Homo sapiens: one gene and its partners. The protein of the gene in region 1 purifies or fractionates together with the protein of each later gene. This does not show direct contact. Each region holds a gene or a part of one and is shown on either strand. Other genes may lie near its edges.

Region 1 (3,950 bases):
TCCAGGAACTAGTAGCCTTTTTATTTGTACAACACATATAAGGAAACATATTTCATGTATTTGCTATTTAGCCTAGAGGAGCTTTTCCCTGTGGCAGTGTTTCTCATATCAAAAATACCAGGGGACTCATATCAAAGATGCCAGGGCAGGAGGATATCTTGAGCCCAGGAGTTCAAGGGGATTGTTGAGTTCTTCTTTAGCATTCCTGACCCCCGGGCAAATGCCTTTAGTTCAGAATAGTCACTGTGGAAACCAGACTATTCCTTTTTATTTCTTTTTTTTTTTTTGAAACGAAGTCTCGCTCTGTTGCCCAGGCTGGAGTGCAGTGGCGCGATCTCTGCTCACTGCAAGCTCCGCCTCCCAGGTTCACGCCATTCTCCTGCCTCAGCCTCCCGAGTAGCTGGGACTACAGTTGTCTGCCACCACACCAGCTAATTTTTTGTATTTTTAATAGAGACTGTGTTTCACCGTGTTAGCCAGTATGGTCTCGATCTCCTGACCTTGTGATCCACCTGTCTCAGTCTCCCAAAGTGCTAGGATTACAGGTGTGAGCCACTGCGCCCGGCTTCCTTTTTATTTCTAAATGCCCCCTGAGGCAGTGTACCATCCCGATTAAGAAGTACTGATTATAGATAAATGATACTAAAAATCTTGAAAAGGGCATCCAGGTGAATATCTAAAGCTTTTGTGCTGATGGATCAGACATGGAATATCTAAGTAAGAAAATAGTTCTAATACACTATGAATTAGGAGACCCTTAGTAATCTTCAAAATACCAACTTTTCTCAGTTTGTTGTTTTTCTTTTTTGTATTTTTTAGAGAAAGGGTCTCACTCTGTTACCCAGGCTAGAGTACAGTGGCAAGATTGTAACTCACTGCAGCCTCAACCTCCTGGGCTCTAGTGAACCTCCTGTCTCAGGCTCCTGAGTAGATAAGACTGCAGGTGCATGCCACCACGCCCAGCTAATTTATTTTTTGTAGTTATAGGGTCTCACTGTGTTGCCCAGGTTAGTCTCAAACTCCTGGCCTCTAGCAGTCCCTCTGCCTTGGCCTTCCAAAGTGCTAGGATTACAGGTGTGAGCCAGCACACCTGGCCCCCTTGATTTTTTTTTTTTTTTTTTTTTTTGAGACAGAGTCTCGCTTTCTCGCCCAGGCTGGAGTGCAGTGGTGCAATCTTGGCTCACTGCAACCTCCACCTCCCGGGTTCAAGCGATTCTCCTGCCTCAGCTTCCCGAGTAGCTGGGATTACAGGCGCACGCCACCACGCCTGGCTAATTGTGTTTTTAGTAGAGACGGGGTTTTGCCATATTGGCCAGGCTGATCTCGAACTCCTCACCTCATGATCCACCCATCTGGGCCTCCCAAAGCACTGGTATTACAGGCGTGAGCCACCGTGCCCAGCCTCCCCCTTGAATTTTTTAAACAAATTTCTTAATTTTCTTGCAATTAGTAGATTAAAGTGGTATGTAATATTTCATCAAATCTAAGCCACTGTTTATTGCATAGTGCACCATTACTTTATTCATTTAAGCCATGGAGACATAAAAATGCTGCCAAACTGACCCACCATTAATTGTAATTAATTGTAATTCCAATTTCAGAGATGTTAAAACTTGTAAAAATGTGCATCTTAGAATTAGGGAGATAGAGTAGCTAGAAAACTATTGTCTCAGTTTTACTAGTAGTGTCAGTATCTTTAAAAAGTTTTACTTGATGTTATTTGATCTCCCCCCCCCCCCCCTTTTTGGATTAGCTTTCTTGTAAACTGGAGCGAGAATTCCGTTGTGTGGAACTTGCTGATCTAATGACTCAAAATGCTGTGAATTTAGCCATTAAATATGCTTCTCGCTCTCGGAAATTAATACTGGCTCAAAAACTAAGTGAACTGGCTGTAGAGAAGGCAGCCGAATTGACAGCAACCCAGGTGGAAGAGGAAGAAGAAGAAGAAGATTTCAGAAAAAAGCTGAATGCTGGGTAAGAAATAATTTAGTTGTTTGAATTTTCCTTTACTGTCTTGAATGTTAAGTTGGTCTTTGCATAGCTCTTTATTGAATAATATTATTTTCTCTTAGTTACAGCAATACTGCTACAGAGTGGAGCCAACCAAGGTTCAGAAATCAAGTTGAAGAAGATGCTGAGGACAGTGGAGAAGCTGATGATGAAGAAAAACCAGAAATACATAAGCCTGGTGAGATACATTTTCAAGCCCATAAATCATGAGAACTATCATGGATGTGGCTTTTCCCATTTTGCTTAACTGAGGGAAATTGAATACTCATACTTTTTTTCAGACCTCTTTGCTATCTGGTTGTTGTATATTGAGGATGACTATATTTTCCCCATTTACATTATATTGCTTTATTTTAATCTGTAGGACAGAACTCGTTTTCCAAAAGTACAAATTCCTCTGATGTTTCAGCTAAGTCAGGTGAGAAATATTTATAAATTTGTAATATCAAGGAAATTTTGCAAGTCATCTGCAAAGTGACACATCTACGCAAATACACCTTAACTCTTAAGGCCACTTTTGGTGTGTGTGTGTTTATGTTTTTGTTTTTTTAATCTCAGATGTTGTTTGTGAAGCTATGGTCATTTAACAGATGTTTATAAAATGCCTATTGAGTGTCAGGCATTTTACTTAATGGTGGATACAGAAGTCAAACAGACATGTGTGGTTGATCTCTGTTTTAATGCTATTTTAGCCCAGCTGAGAAGACAGATGTTGAAGACAGATCTGGGTATCACTGAGGAAGCATGCAGGATACTGGAGAAACAGTTAAAAGGAATTGAAGGCTGGGCGCAGTGGCTCACGCCTGTAATCCCAGCACTTTGGGAGGCCGGAGTGGGCGGATAACGAGGTCAGGAGTTCTAGACTAGCCTGGCCAACACGGTGAAACCCCATCTCTACTAAAAATACAAAAATTAGCTGAGGGTGGTGGTATGTGCCTGTAATCCCAGCTACTCGGGAGGCTGAAGCAGGAGAATCACTTGAACTCAGGAGGTGGAGGTAGCAGTGAGCCGAGATCGTGCCATTGCACTCCAGCCTGGGCAATGGAGTGAGACTCCATCTCAAAAAAAAAAAAAAGGAGTTGAAAATGGTTGCGTACAGGGAGTGGGCCTGGGGGATAAGAGAAGGTTGAAGTAAGGCACTGCTGGCCCTTTTTTGGTGGGGAGCATAAACCTTATAGTACCATTTGACTTTTTAAACTGTGGACATATGTTACTTTGATTTAAAAAAATTAACTTAAAAAACATGTAGAATATGAAAAGAGCGTATGACACATAGCTGTCATCTAGCCAGTGGTGGAGGATGGGTAGGGACTTCAAGGCAGGCCTCATGGAGTGTTTACAGCAGAGACCTGAAGGATGAATAACAGTCAGCAAGGCAAAGGTGCATGGGAACAGGAGCAGAAGAGAAGCATTTGGGCTTAAGGAACAGTATGTGTGAACTGAAGGCTGCAAAAGGGTGGTGTGAAAAGCTCAGAGAGCAAAGAGAAAGTGGTGCTGAAGGGTTTCGGAGTGATGGGCAGGAGCCAAGTCATGCAGATCTGTGTAGGCCATATTAAGGATTTTGGTCTTTTTTTTATTTTATTTTATTTTTTTTAATAGAGATGGGGTGTCACTCTGTTGTCCAGGCTGGTCTCAAACTCAAGCAATTTCCTCACCTCCACATCCCAAAGTTGTTGGACCTGCAGGTGTGAGCCACCACACCCGGTCAGGATTTTGCTCTTTATTCTAAGGTCACTGAGAGACTGTTGTAGGTTTTAAGCAGAGGTATAGCATGGCACACTGTGCTGAAGAAGAACAGATAATAGACTACTGGCCAGGTGTGATGGCTCATGTCTGTAACCTCAGCATTTTGAGAGGCCAAGGTGGAAGGATCACTTGAGACCAGACGTTTGAGACCAGCCTTGGAAACAATGAAACCCTATCTCTACAAAAAGTAAATA
Region 2 (3,950 bases), on another chromosome or scaffold:
TATAGGAAAAGGAATGAACACATGATTGTGCTACTAAGAGAAATGCAAAATCTAAGTTTTCAGGTGAAATGCAAAGATGTATAAGGCTTAGTAGCTTTTGAGATTTAAAAAAACTAGAATAATGAAGGATTATGAAAAGTAAACCCCAGTTTCTCCGGTGGTCAGAGACTTGGTGATGTGCGGTACATTGGGTAGCCCAGCGGAGGGCAGTGATTAAGGGTTTTCCTTGAATGGTGGCTTTGGAATCATGCACATGTATAATGAGATAATGATGGGGCGCTCAAGCCAAACTTGGCAGAATTATTCTTCTAGATGGAGAAAGAGCTATGGTTTGGGTGGCCATGAATTATTTGTAACAGGTGGTTGCAGCTTTCAGGGACCTTCACAAATACTATCAGATTTTACATACATTTTAGGACTTCAGGTTAAAATCAATATAGGCTTTTAGAAACTACAGGTTTCTAATGTGCATTTTACACTGAAGACCTGCTCCTAAGCCACATCCTGCTTTGTAGAGGGAGTAAAACCTTTCTCTTCCTCTTTCTTTTTTACTTTTTCTTTAACCCCTCCATAGAAATAAACTTTCTTTTTTTTTTTTTTTTTGAGACAAAGCTTCGCTCTTGTTGCCCAGGCTGGAGTGCACTGTCACGATCTTGGCTCACTGCAACTTTCACTTCCCAGGTTCTAGTGATTCTCTTGCCTTAGCCTCCTGAGTAGCTGGGACTACAGGTGTGCATTATCACACCTGGCTAATTTTTTCTATTTTTAGTAGAGATGGGGTTTCACCATGTTGGCCAGGCTGGTCTCGAACTCCTGACCTCAAGTGATCTGCCCGCCTCGGCCTCCCAAAGTGCTGGGATTACAGGCGCGAGCTACCTCGCCCAGGCTTACATGGCCATTTTGAAGTGATTGGGTTCTAATAAAATAGTTTACAACTCTTCATAACATAGCTCTTCATAACATTGCCTTTTAATCAATTTTCAAAATTTTTATTGAACAACTATGGTGTGCACAAGACACCAGTCTGAATCTGTTGTAAGTTACATTATATACATTGAAAGATATCTACGTGGAAGCATAGAAAGTAGGTTTTACCTCTAGCTTGTAACATCAGAGTCAAAAGAAAAATGTTTGTATGTAAAATTAACCAAAATACATTTACTCAAGACTTGTTAAAAAGGCAGTGTTAGTAAGGTAAATATGTTCACTGACTTGTTGAAGTTGTGGCTGGTTGTTGGAGAAATGGCAAAGCAAGAGTTGCTTACATTTGAATGTTTTTTTTTTCTTGCCTACTTACTGAGGGAAGTGACAGGTTACTGAAGTGTTAGTTCAGCTTTTTATTAGCTTGCTTATTAGTGTGAAGTATGAATAAATCCATTGGAAAATTAAGCCTTCCTCGTAATTATTCTCTTTGCAGCTAACAAATTATTCAGTGACAGAACCTGGTTTTGCTGCCTCCTAGTATCCTCTCTGTCTTTATTTATTTGCTCTGGTGCTAATGAGAAATGAAGTATGTACAAGAAAGAGAACAGAGAAACCTGAATAATGCATATTGGTTAGCATAGTAAGAAGCCACATGTGGGCTGGGCGCGGTGGGTGGCTGACGCCTGTAATCCCAGAACTTTGGGAGGCCAAGGCGGGCAGATCACGACATCAGGAGTTTGAGACCAGCCGGACCAAGATGGTGAAACCCCATCTCTACTAAAAATACAAAAATTAGCCGGGCGTGGTGGTCCACGCAGGTAATCCCAGCTACTCGGGAGGCTGAGGCGGAGAATCGCTTGAACCCGGGAGGCGGAGGTTGCAGTGAGCCGAGATGGCGCCATTGCACTCCGCCCTGGGCGACAGAGCGACTCTGTCTCAAAAAAAAAAAAAAAAAAGAGCCACCTGTGTTGATTGTATGTCTTTTTTTTTTTTTTTTGAGACGGAGTCTCACTCTGTCGCCCAGGCTGGAGTGCAGTGGGTCGCACGATCTCTGCTCACTGCAAGCTCCGCCTCCCGGGTTGACGCCATTCTCCAGCCTCAGCCTCCGGAGTAGCTGGGACTACAGGCGCCCGCCACCACGCCCGGCTAATTTTTTTGTATTTTTAGTAGAGACAGGGTTTCACTGTGTTAGCCAGGATGGTCTCGATTTCCTGACCTCGTGATCTGCCCACGTCGGCCTCCCAAAGTGCTGGGATTACAGGCGTGAGCCACCGCGCCCGGCCGACTGTATGTAATTTTTTTTACCTGTGATTTTTAGAACCATGCCAGGCATATAATATACATTCATCTGTTGAATATGTTGACCCTGATCGTGGTGTGCACTTTCAAGAGGCAGCCGTTTGAGGATTGTCTACCAACTGTACTGGGAACAATGCCTGACTCTGTGTAGGAGTTCAATAAATATTTATTGGATAAATGAATAAATCCCTTTTTTTCCTTTTGTTTTAACATTTGCTTTTTAAAAATAATGGGAAGATAATTATAACACCTTTCTGCACTTCGGCAGTTGTAAAATATATATATAATTTTAGGTATCTTTTTGGAAAATAGACTATTTTTTAGAGCAGTTTCGGTTCATAGCAAAATTGAGAAGGTACAGAGATTTTCCATATCCTTTCTGCCCCCAAATACACACAGTCTAAGTACCTTTTTTGCCTTTAAAGTAGGGTTTGAAAAATTATCCCTTCTCTGTTGTTCATTCTACTTAGGCATGATATGTGTACATATCTTTATATAAGAACACTTTATAGTGTGTTGAATTTTTTTCCCTAGTGTGTCGAAATTTTAAACTAGTTTTTTAATCTTAAAGTAACAAATTATTAACAGTTCCAGGTATTGGATAATTATTACCTCTTCTTACTGCCCTTGAATGCTAAATTGGAGAACCCTATTAACAATCGTCCCTAGCTCTTCTACTGCTCTTTTTTCTTTTTTCTTTTTCGAGATGGAGTTTTGCTCAGTCACCCAGGCTGGCGTGCAGTGGCGCGATCTCAGCTCACTGCAACTTCTGCCTCCCAGGTTCAAGTGATTCTCATGCCTCAGCCTCCTGAGTAGCTGCAGGCCCCCACCACCATGCCCTGCCAATTTTTGTATTTTTCATACTAGAGATGGGGTTTCACCACGTTGACCAGGCTGGTCTCAAACTCCTGACCTCAAGTGATCTGCCTGCCTCTGCCTTCCAAAGTGCTGGGATTACAGGTGTGAGCCACCATGCCTGGCCTCTACTGCTCCTTTTTCTTTTTTTTTTTTTGAGATGGAGTCTCGCTGGGTTGCCCAGGCTGGAGTGCAGTGGCGTGATTTCGGCTCACTGCAAGCTCGGCCTCCCAGGTTCACACCATTCTCCCGCCTCAGCCTCCCGAGTAGCTGGGACTACAGGCGCCTGCCACCGCGCCCGGCTAATTTTTTGTATTTTTAGTAGAGATGGGGTTTCACCTTGTTAGCCAGGATGGTCTCGATCTCCTGACCTTGTGATCCGCCTGCCTCGGCCTCCCAAAGTGTTGGGATTACAGGCGTGAGCCACTGCGCCCGGCCTACTGCTCCTTTTTCTTAACCCTTCAGAGATTTCTGTTTGGGATGAACATGGCAAGACCAACAGGGGAGATAATACTCCCTGAACCATGGTGGGTAGGGCAGAACTGCTTCAGAAGAGAAACAAAATCAACTTAGTTTTGCCATCCTTACTTCTCCATGAGAACAAATTTTGCACATGTCTTTTCTGTTTAGTGGATATTAAAAGAAAACAAACCGTGGGAGGCCTGGAGATTTTGCAGTTGATATTTAGATATCAGTTTTGTTGCCCTCACTTTGTACATTAGACAGAATCCTGAAAATTTGTGTAAATTGCCATTTTGGTAGGCAAAACTGTACTTTAAGCACATAAAAGAGTTTTATAAGTGTCTATACTTACTATGTGAACACATTACAACTCATGCTTTACATTGGTGAGACATGGAAAGTGCTTCTTT
Region 3 (3,950 bases), on another chromosome or scaffold:
GGTTTTCTTTTTTATTATTGTATTAAAACAGAGTTTAACCTAATATCACTGAGTAAATATTACGATGAGCCTATTTTTGTTCCCAGAAACATGGAATAATCCTAAATTCAGAAATAGCTACCAATGGAGAGACTTCCGACACCCTCAATAATGTTGGATACCAAGGTCCTACCAAGATGACAAAAGAAGAGTTAAATGCCCTCAAGTCGACAGGGGATGGGACCCTAGGTAAGTATTTGCTTTCCTTCGGCTCCTCACACCTTTCCACTCAGCATTGGTTCACCCTCCATGCACTGCTGGGGTTGGAGCCACCGTCGCTGATGGGTTAACAGTCACCAGCATGCCATTTGTTTCATCACTTCATGGTAATTTCCTTGCCCACCCGGTGTGGTCACCCACGTGTTGTCTGGCATGCATCTCTGTGTAGTGCACCATCAATGGCTCAAGTGAACCTTTTCTTTTGCTGCTCAAAGCTACCAAGCAAGACTGTGAAGGCAAAAGGAAAACAGTCTCAAAATTAAGTAACAATGTGGAGAGTACTATTTGGTTTTCCTCAGACACATATATATCTGTACCTATAAAGTGTGGCTTTTTAAACCGATTCTATGACAGAATTATCAAAAGATCAGAATGGTTGAGGCCGTCAAGTCAGTTGGCCATATTTGCAAGCCAACATCGACATCCTGGGCAGCATTCAGCGCTTTGAGGGTACGGGGTGCCTGTGGACAGCAGGTCCGTCTGTGTTGCCTTTTTCAAGCCACCGCTCGAGGTGGGCAGGCGGCCGTGGTAGTGGGTGTGGCGGTGCTGAGAGTCTGAGTATGCCCACCTTTGTCAGAGGGGATCCTCCTTTGTATGCCACGTGTTTGCTTCTGAAAGAATATAAAACTGGGGAATCCAGTAGATCAGAGGAATATTTTATACCATTTTCAATGATCTGATTTGTCATAATTTGTCATAAGAGTTGGCTTTGGGAGAAACCTTCAGATTCTGGCGTGCAGCCTGAAGTTGCAGCGTGCAAGTGAGGCCTCATCTGTCACTGGTCACCCTCTGCGTTCCAGTGTTTTACAAAGAGGCTGGAATAAGGTCAGGGTCCGTGACTTTTCATTTTAATGTAGAAGCTTTCATCTTATTTCTTTTTATTTATGGAAATGTAGACACCTCCAGGCCCCATCTTCTCAGGCCTCGCATTCCAGGGAGGTACCTCATTCATTATCTTTATGACTATTAAAGAAACACAGCTCTTTTCAATTGTGTAAAAAAAGTTGTGGCCTAGTGCAGTGGCTCACACTTCTAATCCCAGCGCTGCGGGTGGCCAAGGCTGGAGGATCACTTAAGACCAGGAATTCCAGGCCAGCCTGGCAACCTAGCAAGATTCCGTCTCTAGATAGGTATGTAGTATCTATATACCGTTGTTGAGAAAAGATAAATTAATCAATTTCCATCATACCTTTATATGAGCTACCCGAACAGCTAGGAATCTGATTACGCTGCTCTTACTCAAATACACATTTTATAAATCTTTGATAACCATTGTGAAATGTTGTAAGAACCAGAAATGTCAGTTTTGAAAGTGGCCTTCAAATGACTTTTGATCACATATTCCTTCAGCAAAGAATTGTAGGATCCAATATGTATGTTTATTTTAAATCTACATATGTATACTATTTCATTAATATAAAATGTACGTTATAAAATATATGCAAAGATATGCAAAGAAGTTTTAGAGTAAAACTCTAAATAGAATTCCTAATATTTCCCCCATTTTCCCTGGGATATGGGCACCCCACCATGGAGATCACTGGGCTATAAAATTATCTAGCTTTGACTTTCAGTAACATAGTACCATATCTAATCTGCTGGGGTTTTGTTTGGAGAGTCCAAAAATTCCAAAACAGTTTGATGTTCTTTAGACGATGAATAATTTATCATTTAATTTAGTGGTCATCTTGATCTTGAACATTTGCCTCCTGCTGGTCCTCTCTCCCTAGTCCCTTAGGGAATGGAGCAGAGGTATCAGGGCATGGACACAGGGTGTTTTCTCAGGAAAACAATAGTTGAGTGGCAGAAGATAGATTTCCTTTCATATGAGCTATTTCAAAAGCATCTTCCTTGAGACTGACCTTGAGGCTGCATTTCTAAAAGTGCACTGAATATTCTTTTTAAAAATTACTTGAAAGCTGCTTTTAGGGCTGTGTGACATGGAGTGCAGTTTGACAGCTGCAAAAGTACAAGTTGTCAAGTTGTTCATTGAGAAGTGAGAGTGGGGAATTGAACCTTCAGTCTGTTCCTAAACCCATCATTGTGGATTGTTTGGCTGCCTGATCCAGAGTTCTTTCTATTTGTTGAAACTTAACGTCACCTTTAAAAATCTGTCCACACAAGATGGCACCAGCAGCCACTCTGGCCTTTGATGTGGTGGCAGTGGCCCTCACTGACCCAAAATTTACTAATGCAACTGCTGCTTTGCCGCACAGAACTGGCAAAGGCTTGTTTCTCATGACTCTTTGATGACTCTGTCTTTAGGAATAGGGGTGGGTGGGATTTGGAACGTGTGTTTACATTCTAATGTAGATTATGTGGCCGCCACATCATGGGGTCCCTTCAATTTTCTCAATGGTCTTTTAGGAAGAGCCAGTGAAGTGGAGGTGAAAAATGAAATCGTGGCGAATGTGGGGAAAAGAGAAATCTTGCACAATACTGAGAAAGAACAACACACAGAGGACACAGTGAAGGACTGTGTGGACATAGAGGTATTCCCTGCTGGTGAGAATACCGAGGACCAGAAATCCTCTGAAGACACTGCCCCATTCCTAGGAACCTTAGCAGGTGCTACCTATGAGGAACAGGTTCAAAGCCAAATTCTTGAGAGCAGTTCTCTCCCTGAAAACACAGTACAGGTTGAGTCAAATGAGGTCATGGGTGCACCAGATGACAGGACCAGAACTCCCCTTGAGCCATCCAACTGTTGGAGTGACTTAGATGGTGGGAACCACACAGAGAATGTGGGAGAGGCAGCAGTGACTCAGGTTGAAGAGCAGGCAGGCACAGTGGCCTCGTGTCCTTTAGGGCATAGTGATGACACAGTTTATCATGATGACAAATGTATGGTAGAGGTCCCCCAAGAGTTAGAGACAAGCACAGGGCATAGTTTAGAGAAAGAATTCACCAACCAGGAAGCAGCTGAGCCCAAGGAGGTTCCAGCGCACAGTACAGAAGTAGGTAGGGATCACAACGAAGAAGAGGGTGAAGAAACAGGATTAAGGGACGAGAAACCAATCAAGACAGAAGTTCCTGGTTCTCCAGCAGGAACTGAGGGCAACTGTCAGGAAGCGACAGGTCCAAGTACAGTAGACACTCAAAATGAACCCTTAGATATGAAAGAGCCCGATGAAGAAAAGAGTGACCAACAGGGAGAGGCATTGGACTCATCGCAGAAGAAGACAAAGAACAAGAAAAAGAAAAACAAGAAGAAAAAATCCCCAGTACCCGTAGAAACCCTTAAAGATGTTAAAAAAGAGTTAACGTATCAGAACACAGATTTAAGTGAAATTAAGGAAGAAGAGCAGGTAAAGTCTACTGACAGAAAGTCAGCAGTGGAAGCCCAAAACGAGGTGACTGAAAATCCAAAACAGAAAATTGCAGCAGAAAGCAGTGAAAATGTTGATTGTCCGGAGAATCCTAAAATTAAGTTGGATGGAAAACTTGACCAAGAAGGTGATGATGTACAAACAGCAGCTGAGGAGGTACTAGCTGATGGAGACACATTAGATTTTGAGGATGACACCGTTCAATCATCAGGCCCGAGGGCTGGTGGTGAAGAATTAGATGAAGGTGTTGCAAAAGATAATGCTAAAATAGATGGTGCCACTCAAAGCAGTCCTGCAGAACCAAAGAGCGAAGACGCAGATCGCTGCACCCTGCCCGAACATGAAAGTCCCTCACAGGACATT
Region 4 (4,701 bases), on another chromosome or scaffold:
TTGGTCTGGGCTTCAAGACACCCAAAGAGGCTACTGAGGGCACCTACATTGACAAGAAATGCCCCTTCACTGGTGATGTCTCCATTCGAGGGCGGATCCTCTCTGGCGTGGTGACCAAGATGAAGACGCAGAGGACCACTGTCATCCGCCGAGACTACCTGCACTACATCCGCAAGTACAACCACTTCGAGAAGCACCACAAGAACATGTCTGTACACCTGTTCCCCTGCTTCAGGGACGTCCAGATCGGTGACATCGTCACAGTGGGCGAGTGCCGGCCTTGCCGGCCTCTGAGCAAGACAGTGCACCTCAACGTGCTCCAGGTCACCAAGGCTGCCAGCACCAAGAAGCAGTTCCAGAAGTTCTGAGGCTGGACATCAGCCCGCTCCCCACAATGAAATAAAGTTATTTTCTCATTCTCCAAAAAAAAAAAAAAAAAAGAAACTGGAAGAGCAGCATCACGGCCACGGCCCAGACAGGCACCACCACCTGAACAGAAGGAAGGATGGGATGACCAGCAGGACTGGACTCAGCCATTACAGGTGGAACATGCAGAGGAGAACTGCTGCAGAGGAGAACTGCTGCAGAGGCCCACAGTGACGACGCCTGGGCCTTACACTGACCAAGAAGGAACACAGCCAAAGACGCTCAGGTTCCACCGAGAGGGCACGCCAACATGGTGACAGCCAACCGCACCGAGCTGAGTCCAGTGCAATCACAGATTCTGCTCACTTAATTCCCCTGCTGGTGTCCAAGCAGCCCACCTCTCCAGAACAGAGACCCCATGACGGTGACTGTAAGTCACAAAGACGGCCCCTCTTTACAGGCAGCTCCTCCTGAAGCCGGACCAGAGAGAGAATTCACTAACTGCCTGGAGTTTGGTGACAGTGATACTTCTCCCTGTAGGGCAATAAGCTGGCAGTCTCGGTCGATTCCCAGTCTTGCTTGATTTTTAGTTAAAATTTGGAATGACTCAGTCGTCAGGGCCTCATTACCTCAGACTACTGACAAAAAGCGATCTCCGGGCAGCGAGGAGGAGGAGCAACTGCCAGTGCATCACAGAAAGCTGGTACTACAAACATGGCTCTATTTTAAATAAAGAGGCCAGTCTAATCAGTCTCACTTATGATCACTCGCACTCCTGCGTCTCTAGAGAGAAGAGACAGGACAAAGCTGTCACTTAGAACTGCGAAAGGTACACACAACCCTAGGTTCACAGCTGGGTAACATCAAGGGACTTCATACTGAGAAACCACCACCTCAGGCACCTACAGGACTTTCTGCTTCCCCCACACCTGAATTCTGTATACAAACATTCACGGCTCCATCTACACCACCTCGTTTCACCTGTTCCTATCGGGTATTAGAAACAACAGAGCACAGCCAAAAACCAAACACGATTTCCTCAGGAAAAGAGTACCTGGTGGAGGCCACACTAGTATCCAAAAGTAAACACAGATCTATACACAAAGTGAAAACCAAAAGCAAGCAAGCCTCATGTCACTGCAGAGACGTGAAGGGCAGGCTTGGAAGTCAGGACTCCGGCCTCAGCTCCCGACCCTCCACCACTTACCTGTGAGAGCCTGGGCTAAAGATTTCTTAATCACATTTAGCCTGTTTCCTCACCAGTAAAACAATGAGAAAATGAACGCAAAATTTTGCCAGGATTAAATATAACAAGGCACAGAGTCTGTCCCGTGTCCTCAATAAAATGACAGTAATTATCACGATTTTCCCTTTAGTTGTTGCTTGTCAAAATCGCTAAAAGCCAACTGAAGGCATTCTCACTTGGGAAAGTATGCTACTTCTTAAGGCAATCGGGGGAAAAAAAGCTCCTCTTCAATCTGAGTGATGTCAGATGATTTATTTCCTTCTTGCCATTTAAGGTATACTGCCTGAAAAGATATTAAAGGGTTATAAAGCGCTATGTTGATGTCGTTTAAAAGACAGTTCAAAATAATCCACGACGACGGGTGTGGCTGCTCACACCTGTAACACCAGCACTTTGGGAGGCTGGGGTGGGAGGATCGCTTGAGGCCAGGAGTTCCACACCAGCCTGGGCAATACAGCAACACACCCAGTCTCTTAAAAAAAAAAAAAAAATCCATGAGTCATCTGTAAATGGCTTACACTGGCCCAGTGACAATAAACTCCAACCTCTTAAGAATCCAGCACCTGCCTACACCAACATCCTTACCGCCATCGCTTTCCCCCTTTGCCATTACACTGTGGCCACATCCTCCGCCCTCAGGGTCTTCAAACTTTCTGCCTGAGGCGCGCTTTTCTCACAATTTTGCCTGGCTTGCTTCTCGTCATAGAGGCCTTAGCACGGAAGTCGCCCGCCCCCCAGGCTCCCACTTAGAGTAGCGGACCCCACCCAACCACCGCCCGGTACCCTCTCGCTGGCGACCCTGGGTGTCCCTGTCCTAGGTGGGCTCCGCGGGGGCAGTGACCCAGACCCACAATACCCAGGACCCGCCACACGACTGACATTCGTCGGGTTCATACCCGTGACAACGCCCGGCCCCACTCGCTCTGGCCACCTGGAATGAAGACAAGTCGGCCAGCGACAAAGACAAACAAGGAAGTACACGGACTCCTGAAACCCCGACTTCCCACGAACCACCCGACACCATGTCACGCCTTTCAGCTGCAAAGGGCCAGGCTAAAGCAAGCACTGCCCGAGTGGTGGCAGTGGACAGCTTCGGGACAGGCCGCGCTCGTCGGGCGCAGACAAGCATTCAGGAGGGCTCGCGGGCACCGGCATTTACAGAGCCAGCTCCGCCGCAGCTGAAGGCGGGCGCCCAGGCCCGAGGCCACCGCAGCGAGGCGGGGGTGACTGGAACGGGGCCGTCCCGCCACGCTGCAGGGACGCGCCCAGGCCCCGCCGCCGCCCCTCGAGCCTCCCCCGCCCATGCACTGCGGGAGCGGGAGCGGGAGCGGGAGCCCGAGCCCCGAGGCGCCGCGGCCTCCGAGCCCCTCACCCTGCTGCTCTGGCAGCCCCGGAGGCCGCCCGGCCCGGATGCTCCGGCGGAGACGTGGCCGTGAGAGGGGCGGGGCGAGCGGTGCATCGGCCTCGGGTCCCCGGAAACAGCCTGCACGCGCTACTTTCGTTCCGGAACAGAGAACGTCCTCCTCTTCTTCAAGTGGCCACCCTAGGGCCGGGGACCCTCTGCCCACAGGGTCCGGATCGAGCTCACCTCCGACTGTGATGAGGCCGCCTTCAGAAAGTGACCTTAAGAGTTTGCGGACCTTTCCCTAGTAGAAACGCAACTTCCGGAACTGCAGGACCAACTCTTTCAGGAAGCTGAACCGAGCTTCCGGCGGAAGTGGCGTGGCCGGGGCTCGGCATGGGCGCGGCCGAGCTCGGTGTGGGCGTGACTTCCCCGCCCGCCCTAGTCGGGTCCCCGCCCCAACCCCGCACCTCCACCCGGCCGGCGCCCTTCGCGCTTCAGGTGCCAGATCAAAGGCGACGCTGCTTTGGACCCTATTTGCTTCCCCTTTAAAAAGGGCAAAGCTGGACGGCGCGGGCCGCTGGCCGCTGGGGAACGGCTTTCCACCTTCCCTCATCCGCCAGGCCGCTCTTCCAGCTGTCAGGAAGGAAATGGCCTGGAGGGCGCCTCGGGGTCCTCTGTGATGTTGCGCTCATCTCTGCGGATTTTGGAATACGCTTCAGTCTACGAAGTTTTCTGGGATTTTGATGGGAACTGCTGCAGATCGTTTGGGGAGCACGGGCATCGCTGACTCGGTCCTTCATCTGCGTCCCTGGTGGCCCCTCCATTTATTTCGGTCTTTTGATTTCTTCCACCAGCATTTTGTAATTTCAGCATACAGATTCTGCACCTTTTAAGTTTATAGTATTTCACATCAAACAACTGTAACACTGCGTTTTTGACGTTTTCCACGTGTTCACTGTTGGTCTACACAAATGTGATGAATTCTATGTTGATTTTCTTATCCTGAGACCTCGCTGAACTCATTAGTTTGAGGGTTCATTTGGTGTTTTGCGGTTGTTGTTGTAAAATCCTTGTATTTTTTACATGGGCCATCATGTTATCTGCAAATGCAAATTCTAACACAAAATGATCAGACTGAGGCGTAAAATATACAACTTTTAGAAGAAAACAGAATTTCTCACATCTAGAGCTTGGGGAAGAGTTCTTAGATCTGACCAAAAAAACACAATTCACAAAAGAAGTTGATAGAGTAAACTTCATGAAAAAATTAGAAACTTTTCACCGGATGCGGTGGCTCACGCCTGTAATCCCAACACTTTGGGAGGCCAAGGTGGGCGGATTACCTGAGGTCAGGAGTTTGAGACCAGCCAGGCCAAATGGTGAAACCCATCTCTACTAAAAATATAATAATTAGCCGGGCATGGTGGCATGTGCCTGTAATCCCAGCTACTCAGGAGGCTGGAGGAGAATCGCTTGAATCCAGGAGGCGGAGAGGTTGCAGTGAGCGGAGATCGTGCCACCAGCCTGGGCAACAGAGCAAGACTCCGTCTCAAAAAAAAAAAAAAAAGCCGGGCACAGTGTCTCACGCCTGTAATTCCAGCACCTTGAGAGGCCGAGGCAGGTGGATCACAAGGTCAAGAGATCAAGACTATCCTGGCCAACATGGTGAACCCTGTCTCTATGAAAAATACAAAAAAATTAGCTGGGCGTGGTGGTGTGTGCCTGTAGTCCCAACTACTCGGGA
Region 5 (3,950 bases), on another chromosome or scaffold:
GGCTCACGCCTGTAATCCCAGCACTTTGGGAGGCAGAGGTGGGTGGATCACGAGGTCAGAAGATCGAGACCATTCTGGCTAACACGGTGAAACCCCGTCTCTATACTAAAAATACAAAAAAAAAAAAATTAGCCTCCCTACTCGGGAGGCTGAGACAGGAGAATGGCGTGAACCCAGGAGGCGGAGCTTGCAGTGAGCCACGATCGTGCCTCTGCACTCCAGCCTGGGTGACAGAGTGAGACTCCATCTCAAAAAAAACAAACAAAAAAAACAAATTAGCTGGGCATGGTGACAGACGCCTGTAATCCCAGCTAATCAGGAGGCTGAGGTGGGAGAATCACTTGAACCTAGGACAGAGGTTGCAGTGAACCGAGATCGTGCCACTGTGCTCCAGCCTGGGCGACAGAGTGAGACTCTGTCTCAAAAAAAAAAAAAAAAAAAGTTAATTTTCTTGGGCTAGGCACTATAGCTCACACTTGTAATCCCACTGCTTTGAGAAGCTGAGACAGGAGGGTCACTTGAGCCCAGCAGTTGGAGAGCAGCCTGGACAACATAGTGAGATCTCATCTCTACAGAAAATAAAAAACTTAGCTGGACATGGTGGCATGTGCCTGTAGTCCCAGCTACTCGGGATGCTGAGGTGGGAGGATTCCTTGAGCCTGGGAGGTTGAGGCTGCAGTGAGCCGAGACCACACCACTGCCCTCCAGCCGGGGCAAGAGAGTGAGGCCCTGTCGGAGAAAAACAATTTTCTTGTATTGTAATCACCTTTTCTCTTCTCCCCACCCCCCCGCCCCTTTTTGTTAATAGTTGGACAGAGAGACTCTGAAGATGTGAGCAAAAGAGACTCCGATAAAGAGATGGCTACTAAGTCAGCGGTTGTTCACGACATCACAGATGATGGGCAGGAGGAGACACCCGAAATAATCGAACAGATTCCTTCTTCAGAAAGCAATTTAGAAGAGCTAACACAACCCACTGAGTCCCAGGCTAATGATATTGGATTTAAGAAGGTGTTTAAGTTTGTTGGCTTTAAATTCACTGTGAAAAAGGATAAGACAGAGAAGCCTGACACTGTCCAGCTACTCACTGTGAAGAAAGATGAAGGGGAGGGAGCAGCAGGGGCTGGCGACCACAAGGACCCCAGCCTTGGGGCTGGAGAAGCAGCATCCAAAGAAAGCGAACCCAAACAATCTACAGAGAAACCCGAAGAGACCCTGAAGCGTGAGCAAAGCCACGCAGAAATTTCTCCCCCAGCCGAATCTGGCCAAGCAGTGGAGGAATGCAAAGAGGAAGGAGAAGAGAAACAAGAAAAAGAACCTAGCAAGTCTGCAGAATCTCCGACTAGTCCCGTGACCAGTGAAACAGGATCAACCTTCAAAAAATTCTTCACTCAAGGTTGGGCCGGCTGGCGCAAAAAGACCAGTTTCAGGAAGCCGAAGGAGGATGAAGTGGAAGCTTCAGAGAAGAAAAAGGAACAAGAGCCAGAAAAAGTAGACACAGAAGAAGACGGAAAGGCAGAGGTTGCCTCCGAGAAACTGACCGCCTCCGAGCAAGCCCACCCACAGGAGCCGGCAGAAAGTGCCCACGAGCCCCGGTTATCAGCTGAATATGAGAAAGTTGAGCTGCCCTCAGAGGAGCAAGTCAGTGGCTCGCAGGGACCTTCTGAAGAGAAACCTGCTCCGTTGGCGACAGAAGTGTTTGATGAGAAAATAGAAGTCCACCAAGAAGAGGTTGTGGCCGAAGTCCACGTCAGCACCGTGGAGGAGAGAACCGAAGAGCAGAAAACGGAGGTGGAAGAAACAGCAGGGTCTGTGCCAGCTGAAGAATTGGTTGAAATGGATGCAGAACCTCAGGAAGCTGAACCTGCCAAGGAGCTGGTGAAGCTCAAAGAAACGTGTGTTTCCGGAGAGGACCCTACACAGGGAGCTGACCTCAGTCCTGATGAGAAGGTGCTGTCCAAACCCCCCGAAGGCGTTGTGAGTGAGGTGGAAATGCTGTCATCACAGGAGAGAATGAAGGTGCAGGGAAGTCCACTAAAGAAGCTTTTTACCAGCACTGGCTTAAAAAAGCTTTCTGGAAAGAAACAGAAAGGGAAAAGAGGAGGAGGAGACGAGGAATCAGGGGAGCACACTCAGGTTCCAGCCGATTCTCCGGACAGCCAGGAGGAGCAAAAGGGCGAGAGCTCTGCCTCATCCCCTGAGGAGCCCGAGGAGATCACGTGTCTGGAAAAGGGCTTAGCCGAGGTGCAGCAGGATGGGGAAGCTGAAGAAGGAGCTACTTCCGATGGAGAGAAAAAAAGAGAAGGTGTCACTCCCTGGGCATCATTCAAAAAGATGGTGACGCCCAAGAAGCGTGTTAGACGGCCTTCGGAAAGTGATAAAGAAGATGAGCTGGACAAGGTCAAGAGCGCTACCTTGTCTTCCACCGAGAGCACAGCCTCTGAAATGCAAGAAGAAATGAAAGGGAGCGTGGAAGAGCCAAAGCCGGAAGAACCAAAGCGCAAGGTGGATACCTCAGTATCTTGGGAAGCTTTAATTTGTGTGGGATCATCCAAGAAAAGAGCAAGGAGAGGGTCCTCTTCTGATGAGGAAGGGGGACCAAAAGCAATGGGAGGAGACCACCAGAAAGCTGATGAGGCCGGAAAAGACAAAGAGACGGGGACAGACGGGATCCTTGCTGGTTCCCAAGAACATGATCCAGGGCAGGGAAGTTCCTCCCCGGAGCAAGCTGGAAGCCCTACCGAAGGGGAGGGCGTTTCCACCTGGGAGTCATTTAAAAGGTTAGTCACGCCAAGAAAAAAATCAAAGTCCAAGCTGGAAGAGAAAAGCGAAGACTCCATAGCTGGGTCTGGTGTAGAACATTCCACTCCAGACACTGAACCCGGTAAAGAAGAATCCTGGGTCTCAATCAAGAAGTTTATTCCTGGACGAAGGAAGAAAAGGCCAGATGGGAAACAAGAACAAGCCCCTGTTGAAGACGCAGGGCCAACAGGGGCCAACGAAGATGACTCTGATGTCCCGGCCGTGGTCCCTCTGTCTGAGTATGATGCTGTAGAAAGGGAGAAAATGGAGGCACAGCAAGCCCAAAAAAGCGCAGAGCAGCCCGAGCAGAAGGCAGCCACTGAGGTGTCCAAGGAGCTCAGCGAGAGTCAGGTTCATATGATGGCAGCAGCTGTCGCTGACGGGACGAGGGCAGCTACCATTATTGAAGAAAGGTCTCCTTCTTGGATATCTGCTTCAGTGACAGAACCTCTTGAACAAGTAGAAGCTGAAGCCGCACTGTTAACTGAGGAGGTATTGGAAAGAGAAGTAATTGCAGAAGAAGAACCCCCCACGGTTACTGAACCTCTGCCAGAGAACAGAGAGGCCCGGGGCGACACGGTCGTTAGTGAGGCGGAATTGACCCCCGAAGCTGTGACAGCTGCAGAAACTGCAGGGCCATTGGGTGCCGAAGAAGGAACCGAAGCATCTGCTGCTGAAGAGACCACAGAAATGGTGTCAGCAGTCTCCCAGTTAACCGACTCCCCAGACACCACAGAGGAGGCCACTCCGGTGCAGGAGGTGGAAGGTGGCGTACCTGACATAGAAGAGCAAGAGAGGCGGACTCAAGAGGTCCTCCAGGCAGTGGCAGAAAAAGTGAAAGAGGAATCCCAGCTGCCTGGCACCGGTGGGCCAGAAGATGTGCTTCAGCCTGTGCAGAGAGCAGAGGCAGAAAGACCAGAAGAGCAGGCTGAAGCGTCGGGTCTGAAGAAAGAGACGGATGTAGTGTTGAAAGTAGATGCTCAGGAGGCAAAAACTGAGCCTTTTACACAAGGGAAGGTGGTGGGGCAGACCACCCCAGAAAGCTTTGAAAAAGCTCCTCAAGTCACAGAGAGCATAGAGTCCAGTGAGCTTGTAACCACTTGTCAAGCCGAAACCTTAGCTGGGGTAAAATCACAGGAGATGGTGAT
Region 6 (3,950 bases), on another chromosome or scaffold:
TCTTTTTTTCCAACTATACAAGTACTGCCTTAGTTCACCCTCTTTTCTATTTGTCTAGGCTTGTGCTAAGCAAGAATAGAAATAAATTTATCGGCCGGGCGCGGTGGCTCACGCCTGTATTCCCAGCACTTTGGGAGGCCGAGGCAGGTGGATCACGAGGTCAGGAGACGAGACCATCCTGGCTAACACGGTGAAACCCTGTCTCTACTAAAAATACAAAAAAATTAGCCGGGCATGGTGGCCGGTGCACAGGCACCGGCCTGGCACCAGGCCCAGGCTGAGGCAGGAGAATGGCGTGAACCCGGGAGGCGGAGCTTGCAGTGAGCCGGAGATCGTGCCAGGGCACTCCAGCCTGGGCGACAGAGCAAGACTCTGTCTCAAAAAAAAAAAAAAAAAAGAAAAGAAATTTATCACTGATAAATGCTTTACAATGATACTTAATAGTGTTTTTACTGGTTCCTTGCTTTTAATGGTATTCAATTCAGAGTCTTATATTGCAGTCATAGTGTAACTTTTTTTTTTTTTTTTTTTTTGAGACGGAGTCTCGCTGTGATATCTCCCTGACATTGTATTTAAAAAAACCTGTGTGTTATAGAAGGTTATATAGGGAAATAAAAGACCTAGTCCCTTAACCACAGGTAGTTTGAGAGGCTCTGTGCTAGACCATTTGGTCAGAATGACCTCTTAATAAAACTATTCGATATACATGACTGGCTGTGACGGAGTTTGTAGATAAGGATCCAAGACCATTTCAAGATTCTAGGCAAATGGCCCAGATAGCTTACAACCTGTAGCTGAAAGCACTGCCCTTTAAGTTGTTCCTCATCCCTGTGGTTATAGCTGTGAAGTTGCCACTTATTTTCAGCCCTGGATATTTGAGTGAGTAAGAATTAAATGAATTAAATTTGATAATGTAAGTAAGTAAATAATACTTGAGTATTTAATAAATGACAGCTCTTTTATTCCTTTATATTTTTCTGAATTTATTTTATTTTCAGGCTTAATAATTGCCTCCAGTTTTACATTTTTTCCCCTTTAATTTTTTATTACAGAATTGAAGATGTTCCTGCTCCTTCTACATCTGCAGATAAAGTGGAGAGGTAAGATTATTTACATGGTAGTTAGATTCGTATCAGAAACATAAACTAAGAGCAATATAACTTTAAAGTTATTTTTATTTTTTAATTAATTTATTTTTGATAGAGGCAAGGTGTCGCTTTGTTGCTCAGGCCGAAGTGCAGTGTGCAATCAGGGCTCACTACAACCTTGAACTCCTGGGCTCAAGCAATCTTCCCACTTCAACCTCCTGAGTAGCTAGGACTATAGGCACATGCCACTACACTTCGCTCATTTTTAAATTTTTTGGAGAGATGGGGTCTTGCTATGTTGCCAAGGCTGGTCTCAAACTCCTAGCCTCAAGCATTCCTCCCTGCCTAAGCCTTTCAAAGTGTAGGATTATAGGTGTGAACTACCAGGCCCGTCTCACCTCCTCCCCCTGTAACGTTTCCATCTTGATATGGCTATGGTTTTTTGTTTTTCTTTATCTCAGATCTACACCCGTAGTGACTATGTTTCTTAATCAGAGGTGGGCATAATAATTAACTAAAAAGCTTACCCAAAAGGTAGATGGTAGGTTACATCCCTAGAGATTTCTTGTTTCATTTTTTAGAGACAGGGTCTTGCTCTGTTGCCCAAGCTGGAGTTCAGTGATGTTATCATAGCTCACCACCACCTCGAACTCCCGGGCTAAAGGGATTCTTCTGCCTCAGCCTCCTGAGTAGCTGGGACTGTAGGCATGCACCACCACATCTGGCTAATTATTTTATTTATTTTTTAGACTGAGTTTCACTCTTGTCGCCCAGGCTGGAGTGCAGTGGCGCAATCTTGGCTCACTGCAACATCTGCCTCCTGGGTTCAAGCAATTCTGCCTCAGTCTCACAAGTAGCTGGGATTACAGGCGGGTGCCACTACACCCAGCTAATTTTTCTATTTTTAGTAGAGATGGGGTTTCACCATGTTGGCCAGGTTGGTCTTGAACTCCCGACCTCAGGTGATCTGCCCGCCTTGGCCTCCCAAAGTGTTGGGATTACAGGCGTGAGCCACTGTGCCCACCCGAATTATATTTTTCGAAGCGGAGTCTTGCTTTGTTGGCCAGGGTGGTCTCCAACCTGGGCTCAAGCAATCCCCCTGCCTTGGCTTCCCTAAGTGTTGGGATTACCAGCCTGATCTACCATGCCCAGCTGATTTTATTTGTTGAGCTTGAGATAAAATTTGGGTTCATGTGTTATGGAAAAGCTTTCTGATAAGATTGAGAATTATTACTGTTAGAATATCTTACAAATATTTTGTTTGTTTGTTTTTTGAGATGGAGTCTCACTCTGTCACCCAGGCTGGAGTGCAATGGCATGATCTTGGCTCACTGCAACCTCTGCCTCCCGGGTTCAAGCGATTCTCCTGCCTCAGCCTCCCAAGTAGTTGGGATTACAGGCACCCACCACCATGCCCGGCTAATTTTTGTATTTTTAGTAGAGACAGGGTTTCGCCATGTTGGTCAGGCTGGTCTCGAACTCCTGACCTCGGGCGATCTGCCCGTCTTGGCCTCCCAGAGTGCTGGGATTACAGGCGTGAGCCACCACACCCGGCCACAAATACATTTTTTAAGCGTCCATAGGGTTTTATGTTTTTCATGTTTGAAATCCTGTTGTCATCTTGGTTATTTAACCCTTTTCCCATTTGCCCTGAGAATACTTGCTGGTGGTGCTTGGGGCTGCTGCATTTACCCAGTGAAAACTGCCATGAAATAGCTCTCCTTTATTATTATTTTCACATCACTCTAATATATAGATTTTGGATAAAAAGACATCATTCTGTTTATAGCACTCTGTTTTTAGTAATGGTTATTTCCATTTACAAAATAGGGTAATTCTCGATTGCTGTAAATGTCAAATCCTAGAAAACGTAGCATTCCTATGTATGATGTTAACATCATTCTCAAATGGTTGTTGGCCAAAGATTCATTTGATGAATCCAATTTTTATGAAATAGGCGATTCTGATATTAGTTGTGTTTAGAAATAACTCCGGCCAGGCAGGTGGCTCATGTCTGTAATCCCAGCACTTTGGGAGACTGAAGTGGGCTGATCACTTGAGGTCAGGAGTTCAAGACCAGCCTGGCCAACATGGTGAAACCCTCTCTCTACTAAAAATACAAAAATTAGTTGAGCGTGGTGGCGGGCGCCTATAATCCCAGCTACTCGGGAGGCTGAGGCAAGAGAATCACTTGAACCTGGGAGGTGGAGGTTGCATTGAGCCAAGATTGTGCCACTGCACTCCAGCCTGGGTGACAGAGTGAGACTGTCCCCCCCCAAAAAAAAAAAAAAAAAAAACTCCGAGAACAGTTTTATATTTTTATTTTCATGCTGAAAGTCAGATTTGCTTCAGCTTCAAAGAACATGTTTATGTAAAATTAAATGAGTGCTGGCAATGAGCTGTACTTTTTTTTTTTTCTCTTAAACGGGAAAAGGGTTAAAATAAGTCTTATGAAATACTGCTTGGCTGGGTGTGGTAGCTTACACCAGTAATCCCAACACTTTGGGAGGCCAAGCAAGACCTCCATCTCTGAGAGGATCACATGACCCCAGGAGTTCGAGACCAGCCTGGGCAACATAGCAAGACGCCATCTGTACAAAAAAAAAAAATTTTTTTTTTAATTAACTGTTCGTTGTGGCACTTGCGTGTGGTCCCAGATACTGGGGAGGCTGAGGTAGGAGGATTGCGGAAGCCCAGGAAGTCGAGGTGGTGGTGAGCTATGATCCTGCCACTGCACTCTAGTCTGGGTGACAGAGTGAGACCCTGTCTCCAAAAAAAAAAGGAAAGAAACAAAATAGGGCTAGGCGCGGTGGCTCACGCACTTTGGGAGGCTGAGGTGGGTGAATCACCTGAGGTCAGGAG
Region 7 (3,950 bases), on another chromosome or scaffold:
TCTTTCCAGAGAAAATCTTCTGGAAAATCCTCTTAAAAAGAGGATCCTGATAGTACTGCTCTTGGATTTTATTTCCAGGAAGATAGATAATAAAGAGTTGCTTAATCACAACCTTCAGTTCATACTGAAAATGCAACTTCCATCACTGTTTTCTTCACAGATAACTCATATCCTTTGTTAATAAAAGCTATACAATCTAGTTCACTCCTTCCTTTCCCATTTCTAATGTAAATTTGGATTCCTCTTAGAGTTCAGTTATTTGTATTTTTAGGAGTAATTTTAGATCCCACTTGATAAAGTGGGATTTATAATTCCATTATTTCAGAATCATTCTTTGAGATTATTATTAAATGTATTAACACAGCATTCACTGAGATTGTTCCATGTATTGCATTAAATGAAATTGCTCTCCCAAGGAATCCTATTATTATAATACTTTATAATATATTGTTTTTTAATTTACAGAGAACTTCCACATTACATTTTTTTAATTGACACATTGTAATTGAACATATTTATGGGATACAATCTGATGTTTTGATGCAGATATGCTGTATAGTAATCCAGTCAGGGTAGTTAGTATGTCTGTTGCCTCATGCATTTATCATTTTTTTGTGGTGAGAATATTTTTATATTTTGATCCTTACAACAATCAAGAGTGGGTAGGGCATGTATTATTATCCTTATATTACAGAAAATGTTTCTTAGGCTAAGTAACTTACCCAAAGTAATGTAACTAATATAACTAATAAGTAACAAAACCCGACCACATTCTTCATGTGATTTCATGTGAGCTAATAGAACTTACTTCTTTTTTTTTTTTTTTGAGACAGAGTCTTGCTCTGTCGCCCAGGCTGGAATACAGTGGCCCAGTCTTGGCTAACTGCAACCTCTGCCTCCCGGATTCAAGCAATTCTCCTGCCTCAGCCTCCTCAGTAGCTGGGATTATAGGCGCCCGCCACCGCACCTGGCTGATTTTTATATTTTTAGTAGAGACAGGGTTTCACCATGTTGGCCAGGCTGGTCTCGAACTCCTGACCTCAGGTGATCCACCCGCATTGGCCTCCAAATGTGCTGGGATTACAGGTGTGAGCCACCATGCCCAGCCTTTTTTCCCTGTTCTTAACCCTTAACTCCTAAAGTCATATAAAATATACGTTTAAAATTAACTGAAGCAAAGAATGTTGATAATTATTATAACTTCTGTATAATAAAATGTCATTGGACAAATAAATTAGTAGTAGTATGAGATTACCATATCCAAATTTGGGCTTTCGTCATAATTACCTCATAATTGCTTACAGCTATAAATGCAGGCTTCGAGTAGTAATTAATGCATATTAGTATGTATATGGTGACTTTACACTTTTTTTTCTAGGTTCCTGATCAGTATGGCACAATCAGAGCTGTAGCAGAAGGAAAGGCAGATCAATTTTTAGTAGGCACATCACGAAACTTTATTTTACGAGGAACATTTAATGATGGCTTCCAAATAGAAGTACAGGTAAGCTGTGTGATATTAACCGTTAACTGAATATTTTTTATGATATTCTTTGGTTCTTATAACAATGAGTGTCTTTCATTTTCAGGGTCATACAGATGAGCTTTGGGGTCTTGCCACACATCCCTTCAAAGATTTGCTCTTGACATGTGCTCAGGACAGGCAGGTGTGCCTGTGGAACTCAATGGAACACAGGCTGGAATGGACCAGGCTGGTAGATGTGAGTGAAGCAGGATGTGATTATTAACCTCCCCACAGAAACTCCTCACACTGGCAGTTGAGAGCAGCAAAGTAAAAAGGACTAAGTGTTGATTCAAACCAAATGTAAACATATGGTTTAGTAATAGAGGGTGGAGATAAGAGGGTAGCGTTTAGTCTTAAAGTGTGAACATGAACCGATTTTAAAGAAGTAAGTTAGGCCGGGCAAGGTGGCTCACACCTGTAATCCCAGCACTTTGGGAGGCCCAGGCAGGCGGATCACGAGGTCAGGAGATCGAGACCATCCTGGCTAACACGGTGAAGCCCTGTCTCTAGTAAAAATACAAAAAATTAGCCAGGCGTGGTGGTGGGCGCCTGTAGTCCCAGCTACTCGAGAGGCTGAGGCAGGAGAATGGCATGAACCCGGGAGGCGGAGCTTGCAGTGAGCCGAGATCGTGCCAGTGCACTCCAGCCTGGGCAACAGAGCGAGACTCCGTCTCAAAAAATAAAAAATAGAAGAAGTAAGTTAGCAGCGTAAAAGCTCAATTTGTCCATCAGCTTCAGTAGTAAAATCATAAAGATTTCAAATATCTACATAGCATTAATTATTATGGAAACATTTGTGCCTCGGGTGGCATTGCAGTTGGATTCAGTAAGTGCTGCTCACTAACAGGCTCTACTGTCTTCTTTCTGGGTGGTCTCTTACTGTATTTTCTCTCTACCCAACCCAGATATCCACCTTCTCTAGCCCAAGAGGTGTATATAAGTTCTTTGTGGATGCTAAAGAACTGTACCAGTGTTTGTTGTTATTATCCTTATTATTGTTCCACTCCCTAGCCACAAGCTGGTTGTCCCTTTCCCTCACCACTCTGCCAGCATATCCCCTTCATGCTCTGAAATTCTTTTTCCTCTCATATCTGTGTGGTATTTCTCATTAGCTACAAAGTTGATTGAAATGTTATGTTTGAATGAAACAGGTTATTTTCAGAAGTTTTTGCTACTGTCCCCATAGGGAGACTTTCTCATGTACTCCCCAACAGCTGTCTGTCTCTTTTCTAGGAACCAGGACACTGTGCAGATTTTCATCCAAGTGGCACAGTGGTGGCCATAGGAACGCACTCAGGCAGGTAGGGTCTTTAAGTGAACTGAGTAATCTGAAGTGGTGGGATGTTTAAATGCTATTCAGGAATGTTCTCAATCTGATCTGGAGAATTAATCTCTTAAGTGGCACACTAATATGCTTGTTGTTCTTATCCGTTTTGTATATTCATAGAATTCAATTATTTATTGAGCACCTGCCTTTTGCGACATGCTACATGCTATTGTGTGTATTCAGAATACATCAGAAAACAAAACAAAAATTCCTGTCCTGTGAAGCCTACATTTTAGCGTGTATGGGACAGAATAAAAAATAAGCCCTGACGCAGCCAGGCACAGTAATCCCAGCACTTTGGGAGGCCAAGGTGGGCGGATCACCTGAGGTCAGGAGTTCGAAACCAGCCTGGCCAATGTAGCGAAACCCCGTCCCTACTAAAAATACAAAAATTAGCCAGGCGCAGTGGCACACACCTGTAATCCCAGCTATTCTGGAGGCTGAGGCAGGAGAATCAGTTGAACCTGGGAGACAGTTGCAGTGAGCCGAGATTGTGCCACTGCGCTCCAGCATGGGCAACAGAGCAAGACTCCATCTCAAAAAAAATAATAAGGCGAGTTGCAGTAGCCCACGCCAGTAATTCCAGTGCTTTGGGAGGCTGAGGCAGGAAGATTGCTTGAGGCCAGGAGTTTGAGACCAGCCTGGGTGAGACACCATCTCTACAAAAAATAAAAATAATAAACATTATCACGAATTATATTAGAAAATGTTAAGAACCATGTGAGGATAGGGAAAATGATGGGAGATTAAGAGGGAGTGCAGTTGCAAAATGATAGAGTGGTCATTATGGGCTTCATTGAAAAGGAGTTGCAGATTTGACTTTTCCTTTGTGAAATGAGAAGAATCAGAAAATTTCTCTCCTCATCTTTTATGCAGGGGAAGGATTTGAAGCTGATGTAACACCATTGAGCATTTATAAGTTGTTTGTGCTATACCTTTTGCCATCCTGTCTTTTTTAAATGCTACGCAGATATATAATAAAGATATATTTTCTAAAATAATTTAAGACCTGTCTTGCAGACCTTGTATAGTACCTAAGGTTAACATGTTTATGATTTATATATCTTTAATTGACTCAACTTTATTGCCTCTGCTAGT

Evidence for each region.
Region 2: the proteins of WDHD1 (region 1) and FNBP1 fractionate together in Homo sapiens (co-fractionation; one large-scale study listed by BioGRID). This does not show direct contact.
Region 3: the proteins of WDHD1 (region 1) and LRRFIP1 fractionate together in Homo sapiens (co-fractionation; one large-scale study listed by BioGRID). This does not show direct contact.
Region 4: the proteins of WDHD1 (region 1) and GOLGA3 fractionate together in Homo sapiens (co-fractionation; one large-scale study listed by BioGRID). This does not show direct contact.
Region 5: the proteins of WDHD1 (region 1) and AKAP12 fractionate together in Homo sapiens (co-fractionation; one large-scale study listed by BioGRID). This does not show direct contact.
Region 6: the proteins of WDHD1 (region 1) and NASP fractionate together in Homo sapiens (co-fractionation; one large-scale study listed by BioGRID). This does not show direct contact.
Region 7: the proteins of WDHD1 (region 1) and EML4 fractionate together in Homo sapiens (co-fractionation; one large-scale study listed by BioGRID). This does not show direct contact.

What each region holds. Positions count from the first base shown.
Region 1 is NC_000014.9:54,960,976-54,964,925, reverse strand, and holds part of WDHD1 (WD repeat and HMG-box DNA-binding protein 1), read left to right. Parts: intron 1-1,753; coding exon 1,754-1,974; intron 1,975-2,072; coding exon 2,073-2,188; intron 2,189-2,374; coding exon 2,375-2,428; intron 2,429-3,950. UniProt on the Homo sapiens protein: Core replisome component that acts as a replication initiation factor. Binds directly to the CMG complex and functions as a hub to recruit additional proteins to the replication fork.
Region 2 is NC_000009.12:130,036,330-130,040,279, reverse strand, and holds part of FNBP1 (formin-binding protein 1), read left to right. Parts: intron 1-3,950. UniProt on the Homo sapiens protein: May act as a link between RND2 signaling and regulation of the actin cytoskeleton. Required to coordinate membrane tubulation with reorganization of the actin cytoskeleton during the late stage of clathrin-mediated endocytosis.
Region 3 is NC_000002.12:237,759,978-237,763,927, forward strand, and holds part of LRRFIP1 (leucine-rich repeat flightless-interacting protein 1), read left to right. Parts: intron 1-86; coding exon 87-228; intron 229-2,625; coding exon of another isoform or gene 2,626-3,950.
Region 4 is NC_000012.12:132,825,819-132,830,519, forward strand, and holds the start of GOLGA3 (golgin subfamily A member 3), read right to left. Parts: upstream 3,052-4,701; 5' UTR 2,985-3,051; intron 2,572-2,984; exon of another isoform or gene 2,198-2,571; intron 2,085-2,197; exon of another isoform or gene 1,990-2,084; intron 1,896-1,989; exon of another isoform or gene 1,789-1,895; intron 420-1,788; exon of another isoform or gene 1-419. UniProt on the Homo sapiens protein: Golgi auto-antigen; probably involved in maintaining Golgi structure.
Region 5 is NC_000006.12:151,347,903-151,351,852, forward strand, and holds part of AKAP12 (A-kinase anchor protein 12), read left to right. Parts: intron 1-808; coding exon 809-3,950. UniProt on the Homo sapiens protein: Anchoring protein that mediates the subcellular compartmentation of protein kinase A (PKA) and protein kinase C (PKC).
Region 6 is NC_000001.11:45,590,171-45,594,120, forward strand, and holds part of NASP (nuclear autoantigenic sperm protein), read left to right. Parts: intron 1-1,052; coding exon 1,053-1,100; intron 1,101-3,950. UniProt on the Homo sapiens protein: Component of the histone chaperone network. Binds and stabilizes histone H3-H4 not bound to chromatin to maintain a soluble reservoir and modulate degradation by chaperone-mediated autophagy.
Region 7 is NC_000002.12:42,301,726-42,305,675, forward strand, and holds part of EML4 (echinoderm microtubule-associated protein-like 4), read left to right. Parts: intron 1-1,378; coding exon 1,379-1,504; intron 1,505-1,589; coding exon 1,590-1,721; intron 1,722-2,758; coding exon 2,759-2,826; intron 2,827-3,950. UniProt on the Homo sapiens protein: Essential for the formation and stability of microtubules (MTs). Required for the organization of the mitotic spindle and for the proper attachment of kinetochores to MTs. Promotes the recruitment of NUDC to the mitotic spindle for mitotic progression.